2 separate regions of the Homo sapiens genome follow, and region 2 is linked to region 1. Evidence: fine-mapped expression QTL. A gene starts in region 1. The other region holds a variant in brackets. All regions are shown on one strand. Distances are from middle to middle. Region 1 holds the start of PADI6 (peptidyl arginine deiminase 6). Region 2 overlaps PADI6 (peptidyl arginine deiminase 6).

Region 1 (5,370 bases):
CCTGGCTGACCGAACAGGCTTCACTCAGTACCTCATCTCCACCTCCTATGCTGGGTACACCTGGGTGCATATTAGAGCAAAGGCTGAAAACAAATGTTTATATTACAGTACAACCCTATGTAAAATACACAGCTGTACAAAGGGGTAAGGCTGCTTTTTACGTACTGATACAAAGAACTTCTCTCCAGTATAACTATGAAGTGAAAGAGGCAAGGTATGGAATACTGGGTGGCACATACTACCGTTTATATAAGAAGACAGTAGTAGGAGGAGAGAAGAAAAGAGCAAAAGCGCCCCGGACATAGTAGGTGTTCAGCAATTCTAGTGGAGCAAATGACTAAATGACCTCCTTGTCCTTCCTCAAAAAAGATAACCCAATGGGCTTCCAGGGGCATCTCCACTGAACTGAAAAGTTTGTAATTGTAACCAAGCAGCTTAACTTTGAGCACATTTTACAACTTTTCTCTTTAGTCTCGAGATGTAACCTCGAAGGAACCTGCAGAAGCCTTTTTCCCTTAACCTTAAAATAGACTCCACGTCCTTCCCTTTCTCACCATAAAGCCCCTTCAAATTTATCTAACTGTATGCTAGTATTGGAGGAGGAAGAGAAGAAGAAAAGGATACACACACATATTTACTTGGTCATGCATAACATTTATTTGGAAAGACATATAAGAAACGGGTAACACTGTCACTACCTCCACCTGCAGGTGGGTAAGGCACAGGGCAGGAGGGAGACTCTGAACTTGGAATCATGTGACTGTGGTACCTATTCAGGAGTAAGCATGACCCAGCCTGGGCAACATAACAAGACCCCATCTCTGCGGAAAAATGTAAAACCATTAGCTGGGCATGGTGGTGCACATCTGTAGTCCCAGCTGCTCAGGAGGCTGAGGTGGGAAGACCACTTGAGCCTGGGAGGTCAAGGCTGTGAACCATGATCACGCCACTTCACTCCAGCCTGGGTAACGGAGTGAGACCCTGTCTCAAAAACAACAACAAAAAAAAACTCAACCCAAGCTTAAGACATGAAATGAACACAATTTTAAAGTCAGTTATGTAAGTTCCTTGTGCCAGAGAAGGGTTCCTATTTCTTTGCTCTGTGGGCTCCGCTGAGATGAGTAGCAGCTGATGACCCTGGCTTGATGTATTCATTCCACTAACACTTGCTGTGCCCCCACCCCCACCGACACAGCTGTAAGCAAAGAGCTCACCTTAATCACTGGGGGTTGGGATGCAGGTTCCTGGACCACACCCTAGACCTTCTGGGCCCAGGAATTTGCAATGTTAACAAGCACCCTTGATAATTTTTGAAACCACCAGAGGGTTAATAACCACCTAGTCTAGGCAGGCGCTGTGGCTCACGCCTGTAATCCCAGCACTTTGGCAGGTCGAGATAGGAGGATTTCTGGGATCAAGAAGTTCGAGACTAGCCTGGGCAACATGGCAAAACCCGGTCTCTACAAAAAATACAAAAATCAGCTGGACATGGTGGTGCACACCTGTAGTCCCAGCTACTTGGGAGGCTGAGATGGATCACTGGAGCCAGGTAGGTTGAGGCTGCAGTGAGCTATGATTGCGCCACTGCACTCTAGCATGGGTAGAGACCCTGTCTCAAAAACAAAACCAAACCACCAGTCCAGCACTTTGCCGAGCTCCTTCGTCAATTTCCAGGAGACACACACCCTAGAACTGAGACCCCAGAGCCTGGGCATGCTGCCACACATTGCCATCCTGACTGCTACCATCAACTCCTCCCAACTGCCCTCTGCAGGTATTTGCCCCGACAGCTTCCAGCTGAGTCCTCCAGCAACATGGCCAAGTTGATCACTCCAAGGCACCGACTTCCCAGAGCCCCTCCTCTTCCCAGCTGAAGGCCACAGATGCCTAAGCAACCGGCCTCAGACTCCCCTGGCCTGCAGCTCTGCAGGCACGAGGTGCCTGATAAATTGGTGATGAAGGGGTTCTGATGCCACCTGCTCCCCAGACTATCAGCCACCAGGAAGCTCTTAGAGGGAAAATCAGTGACACCTGGGCAGCTGCTGACCCCTCCCCTTCTTAACAAGGGGGTGGCCTGCACAGGCCTGGACTGTATAACAGGGAAGGGCAGGGTGAGCCCTGGGGCGTCTGAGGCTGCTGTGCTGAGTGAGGGCTGCGGTGCAGGCCTGAGGATGGTCAGCGTGGAGGGCCGAGCCATGTCCTTCCAGAGTATCATCCACCTGTCCCTGGACAGCCCTGTCCATGCCGTTTGTGTGTTGGGCACAGAAATCTGCTTGGATCTCAGCGGGTGAGATGCTGGGAGCTCTGCCAGAGGTGGCAGGCAGACAGGCAGGCAGGCCTGGGACCCAGTCCCCTTGATCTGGGAGTTGGGGGTTACTTCTCTAGCCTCACTATCCTGCCCCATCTTGGGAAGCCTTGGGTCTCTAGTGGGGGGCCTCCCAGTTCCAACCACGCAGAATTCTGACTTAAATCCTGCCTCTGCCCTGTAGCAGCTGCCATGGACTCTTAGTGAGGCAAGGGCCTTGGCCTCTCTGTTCCCCTATCTGTGAAACCATGGGGACGCTGGCCTCGGGGGGCTGTGAGGAGCAGGCCAGGGAGACTGCTAGATGCTGGAGCCTGCAGGTGGAGGTGACTCAGCAGGGTCACAGTACAACTTCCTGAGTCGCTTGCCCTGATCTTTTTCTTTATGGGGATCCTTTGTGGCTCCCCCCTTCTTGGGAATTGGGTGCTTATTACTAAGATGTAGCTGTGGTAACTTCTGCAGTGTCGGTAGCGGGATGGGGTTTGGGCTGGAGCCCGTCGGAGAGCAAACACAGGGGTCCTTTGGGAGGGGGTGGGTAGGAATAAGGACCCCAGACCACTCTGCCTCAACACCCTAAGGAGAATGAGGATTCGGGAGCCGTCCCCTCCCCCATGCCAGTCATCTCCTAGGCTGAGAAGGTGTTTGTGCCCTGACGCGTGTCTCTTACCGGGCAAACCAGGTGTGCCCCCCAGAAGTGCCAGTGCTTCACCATCCATGGCTCTGGGAGGGTCTTGATCGATGTGGCCAACACGGTGATTTCTGAGAAGGAGGACGCCACCATCTGGTGGCCCCTGTCTGATCCCACGTACGCCACAGTGAAGATGACATCGCCCAGCCCTTCCGTGGATGCGGATAAGGTAAGCCTCAGGGGAAGAGGTGAGGGGCATCTCCCGGGGTGGGACCTAGCACAGCCACTGGGGCTTCCTCCTGGCTGCAGACGTGACTCGAGCCTGGGAAACACGTTGTTTTGCACGTCTGATCTCATCCAGTGTCTGCAACAGACCAGTGGTGTGGGCACTCCATGACCCCATTTTACAAAGAAACAGAGGCACCTAGCGAAGGTGCCCTGCCAAGTCAGCAACCAGCAGGACTGGGATTTATTTTTTATTTTCATTTATTTATTATTATTTTTTTTTTTGAGTCTCACGCTCATTGCCCAGACTGGGGTGCAATGGCACAATCTCAGCTCACTGCAACCTCCACTTCCCGGGTTCAAGCAATTCTCCTGCCTCAGCTTCCCGAGTAGCTGGGACTACAGGCACCCACCACCATGCCCGGCTAATTTTGTATTTTTAGTATGAGACAGGGTTTCACTATGTTGGCCAGGCTGGTCTCAAACTCCTGACTTCAAGTGATCTACCTGCCTCCACCTCCCAAAGTGCTGGGATTACAGGCATGAGCCACCACACCTGGCCTACCATCACTTTACATATGAGGAAACTAAGGCACAGAGTGCTGTGTCTAAACCTAAGTAGCCTACCTAGAGTGGGATAGACCCAGGATTTGAGCTTGAGCCCAAGGGTGTATTCTCCCCTGGGTAAGCTGTCTCCCTAATGGGGTGCCTATGTTGGGGAGGTTCTCCTGTGGTAGAAGCAGGTGGCTCATTCAGGGCAGGAGTGTTCAACCTTGGTTGCAGGTGAGAACCACTGGGGAGCTAATAACATCAATACCCAGGCCACACCCCCTCTACCAATTAAACCTGAGGTACCAATGGAACCTCAGGGCTAGGATCCTGGCCGCTGGTTTAAAGCTCTCCAGGTGCACCCAGTGCGGGGCTGGGGGTGAGAACCATGATGGAGCAGTTCAGGACTGGGAGAGCTCTCCCTCCCTCCCCCCACACCCTACAGGACCTACTGGAGATGTCTGCTGCAGAGGGGTAGGTACACACACCCACCTGCGCTGTGTGCCCAGGGCAGGCAACTCCCTGAGAGGCAAGTAGTGGACTTAGGTAGGAACTGAGTGTCTCTGGCCAGGTGTGGTGGCTCATGCCTGTAATCCCAGCACTTTGGAAGGCTGAGATGGGCAGATCACCTGAGGTCGGGAGTTTGAGACCAGCCTGGCCAACATGGTGAAACGCTGTCTCTACTAAAAATACAAAAATTAGCCAGGTGTGGTGGCAGGTGCCTGTAATCTCAGGTTCTCAGGAGGCTGAGGCTGGAGAATCGCTTGAACCCAGGAGGTGGAGGTTGTAGTAAGCTGAGATTGTCCCACTGCATTACAGCCTGGGCAACAAGAACAAAACTCCATCGCAAAAAAAGGTATCTCAGATAAGAATGGAGGCCACGGTGGGTGCCAGTGGAACTCCAGACTACCTGAGAACCATTCTCTGCCCAGGGCTCGGCCTCCAGGACCCTCAGGAGTGGCCAACAAAGAACCTTGAACTTAGAGGACTAAAGCTTCTATTTAAGGATGGGGTGGATCTGTCACATGCTCTGGCCAATGGTTGGGTCTCTGGTTCATGACCAAGACCTTGTGGTCAGGGTCAGTGGCTGGAGGGCAGGTCTCTTTCTAAAAGCATAAAGTAGAGGCTGGTGTGGGACACAGTCCCACAGTTGGGACTGAGTCCCAACGCTGCTTCTTCACCTGGGTGTCCTTCTTAGTGAGCAGCTTAAGCCACCAGAGGCCTGTTTCCCCACCGTGCACCTTATGGAGTAGGACATGGGACCCCAGGAGAGTGGGTTTAGCAGGGAGGATGTATAGTGTGGTTTCAAGCTTGGGCTCTAGAGCCAGGCAGCCTGTTTCTTAAATCCCTTTGGGATAAGTCCCTTGATCACCCCGCCATCAGGGATACAGCTCTCACGTGGACAGGTGGTTTCAAGCCTGGCTCTCGACAAGGTTAGGGTTGGGGGTCATGGCAGGTTCTAAGTCCTTAGGGGACTGACTCAGCCCTAAGCGCAGGGCTGTGGCCCCATACCAGCTCATAGGTGAGACTTCAGAAGCCATAACACAAGACCAAGATCCCACGCCTAGACTCGGCACATGGCCTGGGGCTCTGTTCCTGGCACCTCCCGTCCAACACTGCCTATGGTTTCGGGATGCTGTCTCCACAGGTCTCGGTCACATACTAT
Region 2 (5,370 bases), 20 kb after region 1:
CAGTGAGCTGAAATAGCCCCACTGCACTGCAGCCTGGGAAACAAGAGCGAAACTGTCTCAAAAACAAAAAATAAAATTGCTGGGTGTGGTGGCTCATGCCTGTAATCCCAGCACTTTGGGAGGCTGAGGCGGGCGGATCACCTGAGGTCAGGAGTTCAAGACCAGCCTGGCCAACATGGTAAAACCCCGTCTCTACTAAAAATACAAAAAACAATTAGCCAGGCATGGTGGTGCACCCCAGTAATCCCAGCTACTCGGGAGGCTGAGGCAGGAGAATCTCTTGAACCCAGAAGGCGGAGGTTGCAGTGAGCCAAGATTGCACCACTGTACTCCAGCCTGGGTGACAGATAAGATTCCATCTCAAAAAAAAAAAAAGACTTCTACCCCTCTTCCAGGCTCCGTGGGTGTAGAAGCCAGACAGCTTTTCCAGGGCAGGGCTCCTGGGGAGTGTGGTCCTCAGAGGAATAGCAGGCTTCAGGATGAGAAGGTAAAATCTCAGAAAGTCTGATGGGATTCTGCTGATGGCAGATACAAAAGACATAAAGCAGAGAGATGTGGTATCTCGAGTATTTGAAGACGGGTTTCTCACTCACAGGAGGCATCTACTTGTTCTTCAAAGAAACCCAAGTCTTCCATACAGTGTGATATTCAGGCATGGTTTGACCCCATATAGCTGCATATGACCTGCAAGACTGAGCCGACACACCCTTCCCCCAGTAAGCGTCAGACTGTTCTAGACCTTGTCAGGCTGGTAGCTCCCTGTGGCTTTGCATAGACCCAAGAAATAGGTTCTTTGGAGCAGTAGCATAGATACTATGAATGTGCTATGCCAGTAGTTACATTGCTGTATTCTATTAGTAGCAACATGAGCTTTGGACCTGAAGCCGGACTACAGTCCCAATTTCAATATCTCCCAATATTAGGGCCTTGCTGACCTCCAACTTTTGAGGACCTGTTTGTTCCGTTTGTTTAAGATAATTTATTATTTTTTCTTTTTGAGATGGAGTCTCGCTCCGTTGCCCAGACTGGAGTGTAGTGGTGTGATCTTGGCTCACTGCAGCCTCCACCTCCAGGGTTCCAGCAATTCTCCTGCCTCAGCCTCCCGAGAAGCTGGGATTACAGGCATGTACTGCCACGCCCAGCTAATTTCTGTATTTCTAGTAGAGATGGGGTTTCACCATGTTGGCCAGGATGGTCTCAAACTCCCAGTCTTAGGTGATCCGCCCGCCTCAGCCTCCCAAAGTGCTGGGATTACAGGCGTGCGCCACTGCGTCCGGCCAGATGAGTGGTCTTAACATCAGCCTCACACACTGCTGTTTCCCTTCAAGGAAGGGATGGCCACTGTAGATCTGTGAGCCTGATGCTGTGCACAACGGCTTGAAGACCCCAGGGCTCAAGACCCACCCAACGCCACACATATAAAAATGACAACCATGCATGGTGGCAGGCGTATAGTCCCAGCTACTGTGGGGGGCCGAGGCAGGAGACTCACTTGAACCCAGGAGGTGGAGGTTGCGGTGAGTCAGATCATGCCACTGCACTCCAGCCTGGGTGACAGAACGAAAGGAAGGGTACTTGCAGAATGTGACCGAAGGGTATAAACAGAGCAGGCCTTGGCTACCAGGGAAGGGGCCGCCACTGGCACTTCCCAACCTGGCTCTGCCATGGGCAAAGCTGAGTAGTGTCAGACAAGATGGGCTCTGAGCTTCTGGCTTGTGCCGAGGTCAGGGATGGTTGCTCTGTCGACCTCACGGGCAGGGATGTAACCTCTCCTGGTGAGAAGGATGTGTTCTTCCTCTCTTGGCACAAGGAGGTCATAACCAGTAAGGGACCTTCGAAAGCCTTCCCAGAACTGGCTTCTCTCCCATGGCAGGGAGCTGCAGCTGCAGGGTTTTGTGGACACAGTGACGAAGCTGAGTGAGAAGAGCAACAGCCAGGTGGCATCTGTCTATGAGGACCCCAACCGCCTGGGCAGGTGGCTCCAGGTAACACCCCACCTGGGAACCCACCTGTCGGGGAGGGGTGGGGAGACTCAGCATGTGCCACCTAAGAGGAACTTCACAGGCTTCTGGTTAACCTTAAAGACCGAAGCCTTGATAGGGGCGGCCCTGTTCTTAGGACTTCAGTGGAGGCTCAGATGAGGATTTGCCTGAGTCATGGCCACTAAGGAATAGTTAGAGTCCAGCCTCCTTCCCATTCCAGAATGGACACGTGTTCAAGACCACAGAACCCTAACCCCCAGGCCCCGGAAGGCTCTGATACCTTTGGCTAAGGCTGTGAGAGCTGGGCCACTGCCCTGGGGTCCCGCCTGACTCTGGCACAGCACCAAGTCTAGAGCCCCGGTCAGCCTTCGGTTCTAGAGCTCTGTCCTCTGCAGATGAGTGATCATCACATGCTAGGCACGCCATCCTGAGCACCAGAGATAAACTGGAACATATGCTGTCCCATGTTAGCAAGGATAGAACTTTTAAGTGCTATGAAATTTAGACAATGAGATGATACAGTGATTCATTAGACCAAATGAGGCAGTTTAAGAATAGTTGGGAAAATCTGCAAATGAAACTTAAGGAAACAAGGAGCTGGCCATGCAGAGATTTGGGGCAGGGGTGGCCAGGATTAAAAGGAGTTCCTGGCCGGGTGCAGTGGCTCAAGCCTGTAATCCCAACACATTGGGAGGCTGATCACTTGAGGTCAGGAGTTTTAAAACAGCCTGGAAAACATGGCAAAATACTGTCTCTACTAAAAAAATACAAAAATCAGCCGGGCATGGTGGCGCGCGCCTGTAGTCCCACCTACTCTGGTCACTGAGGCAGAAGAATCGCTTGAACCCAGGAGGCGGAGGTTGCAGTGCACCTAGATCACGCCACTACACTCCAGCCTGGATGACAGAGCGAGACTGTCTCAAAAGAAAAAAAAAAATCTGGGGTTGTGCTTGGAGGTCTTGAAGAAGGCTGATGCAGACAGATCACAGTGAACAAAGGTGAAAGGCAGGGCTACCTCCTGGTTAAGGTACCTTTTAAGCTAAGGACAAACAAGAGACACTCAAAGCATGAATCGGGAATGAAAGGTTATAGTTCAGGTTTTCAAAAGACCCCTCTGGCTAAGA[T/C]GTAGGGAACAGATCTTAAGAGTAGGCAAGAATAGAAGCGAAACTGGAAGGCATCACAGTGGCATAGGGTGGAGACACGGTGGCTTCCTGAGTGGCACCAGCGCAGAGCTGACTCAGAATGTAAGCCAGTAAGGCTTGTTAATGGATTCTTTACGAAAGAAGAAAGGAAGAATCTGGATGCTCAAGTCTTTTTCGCCCAGACTGGAGTGCAGTGGCGCGATCTCAGCTCCACTGCAGCCTCTGCCTCCTCCTGAGTAGCTGGGATTACAGGCATGAGCCACCATGCCTGGCTAACTTTTTGGTTTTGTTTTAAGTAGACTGTCTCACCATGTTTCCCAGGCTGGTCTTGAATTCCTAGGCTCAAGTGATCCACCCACCTTGGCCACCCAAAGTGCTGGGATTGCAGGCGTGAGCCACCACACCTGGCCATGGATGCTCAAGTCTTAAACCTGAAGAGTAGGGGAGAGAGGGATCGGAGAGCCTTCAAGAAGGGGTGATATCTGAGCTGGGTGTTGAGGGTTGAGCAGGAGTTGGCAGGAAGGAAGGGGGTTCTTACCGTACCTTTTCCGTAAATGGGGTCCGGGGAGATGTGTGACTGGCAAACAATCTGTCTTCCTCTCCATTCCAGGATGAGATGGCCTTCTGCTACACCCAGGCTCCCCACAAGACAACGTCCTTGATCCTCGACACACCTCAGGCCGCCGATCTCGATGAGTTCCCCATGAAGTACTCACTGGTGTGGAACTTGGTTTGGCTAATCTGAGCTCAGTCCAATCTCTCAGGCCTGGGGCCTGCCTAGAAATAATGGGGCACCAAGTGGGGAGAGGGCCCAGGTGGCCTCTGAGGGGGGAGGGGACGTGGAAGTCTACCTGAGAGCCTGGATTTAGGGATAAGACTGGGGCCTAAAGCCATCCCCTACTAACACCCCTTCCCTGGCTCGGTCTCTCCCCCAGAGCCCTGGTATTGGCTACATGATCCAGGACACTGAGGACCATAAAGTGGCCAGCATGGATTCCATTGGGAACCTGATGGTGTCCCCACCTGTCAAGGTCCAAGGGAAAGAGTACCCGCTGGGCAGAGTCCTCATTGGCAGCAGCTTTTACCCCAGGTGAGCCACAAAGCCAGACGCCTCCAAATGAAAGGAAGGGACCATGGTCGTTCCCCTGGCCCCGCCTGCTTCCCATAGCACCTCAGCAGGTCACACACACTGGACCATTTCTTAAACTGAAGACATTTGAGCTTTTGATTCACGTGGGAGACTAAAGATGAGAATAAACCATTTATTCTTTGATTCCAGGGTTTAAACTGAAACAAGTGAAATTTGGTCCACCAGGATGTCATTTCCAAGAGATATGTGGTTGGATTTCTTGGTGGCCATAAATCCAAAATGATACTTGTGCCCGGGCTTGTCTGTCTAGAAACACTAGGCTCTGTTCTGAGTGGGGTCAGAGTAAGGGATTCGTAACCAACACATCCGCTATGGACCGGCCTCTTTCACACAACGGTCAGAGGCCAGCTCCCTGGAGGCAGCATGACACCAAGTGGCGGGTGACCAGCCCTGGGCCACACTGGCTCAAGAGCTGTTCTTTCCATCTTCCTTCTAGCGCAGAGGGCCGGGCCATGAGTAAGACCCTCCGAGACTTCCTCTATGCCCAGCAGGTCCAAGCGCCGGTGGAGCTCTACTCAGATTGGCTAATGACTGGCCACGTGGATGAGTTCATGTGCTTCATCCCCACAGATGACAAGAATGAGGGCAAAAAGGTCTGCTTTGGGGTCTGGAGAAGGGACATCTGACCCTTGCCTTCTGTTGGGGAATCTTGGAAGATTCTGGAGAGAAAACTGGCTTTTTCTTGTTTTTTTTTTTTTTTGTTTGTTTTTTGAGAGTCTTGCTCTGTCACCCAGGCTGGAGTGCAGTGGCGTGATCTCCGCTCACTGCAACCACTGCCTCCCGGACTCAAGCAATTCTCCTGCCTCAGCCTCCTGAGTAGCTGGAATTACAGAAACATGCCACCACACCTGGCTCATTTTTGTATTTTTAGTAGAGATGGAATTTCACCATGTTGGCCAGGCTGGTCTCGAACTTCTGACCTCAGAGGATCTGCCTGCCTCGGCCTCCAAAGTGCTGGGATTACAGATATGAGCCACCATGTCCAGCTGAGAAAGCTGGCTTCTGACCCAAGTTCTGTTTCCCAGGGCTTCCTGCTGCTCCTGGCCAGCCCCAGTGCCTGCTATAAACTGTTCCGAGAGAAACAGAAGGAAGGCTA

Evidence for each region.
Region 2: its variant is fine-mapped to the expression of PADI6 in whole blood (INTERVAL, PIP above 0.99).

Annotation. Positions count from the first base shown.
Region 1 is chr1:17,370,075-17,375,444 of GRCh38, forward strand. It overlaps PADI6 (peptidyl arginine deiminase 6), which reads left to right and starts at 2,122. Exons shown (of 16, transcript NM_207421.4): 1 at 2,122-2,287; 2 at 2,982-3,159; 3 at 5,353-5,370. The coding sequence starts at 2,172.
Region 2 is chr1:17,390,241-17,395,610 of GRCh38, forward strand. PADI6 (peptidyl arginine deiminase 6) reads left to right here. Exons shown (of 16, transcript NM_207421.4): 9 at 1,874-1,985; 10 at 3,735-3,842; 11 at 4,060-4,214; 12 at 4,711-4,867; 13 at 5,300-5,370. Among named protein-coding and RNA genes, the nearest start is that of PADI6, 21 kb to the left of the region's middle. RefSeq lists an enhancer at 3,481-4,680. The variant T/C (reference allele first, on the strand shown) is at 3,107.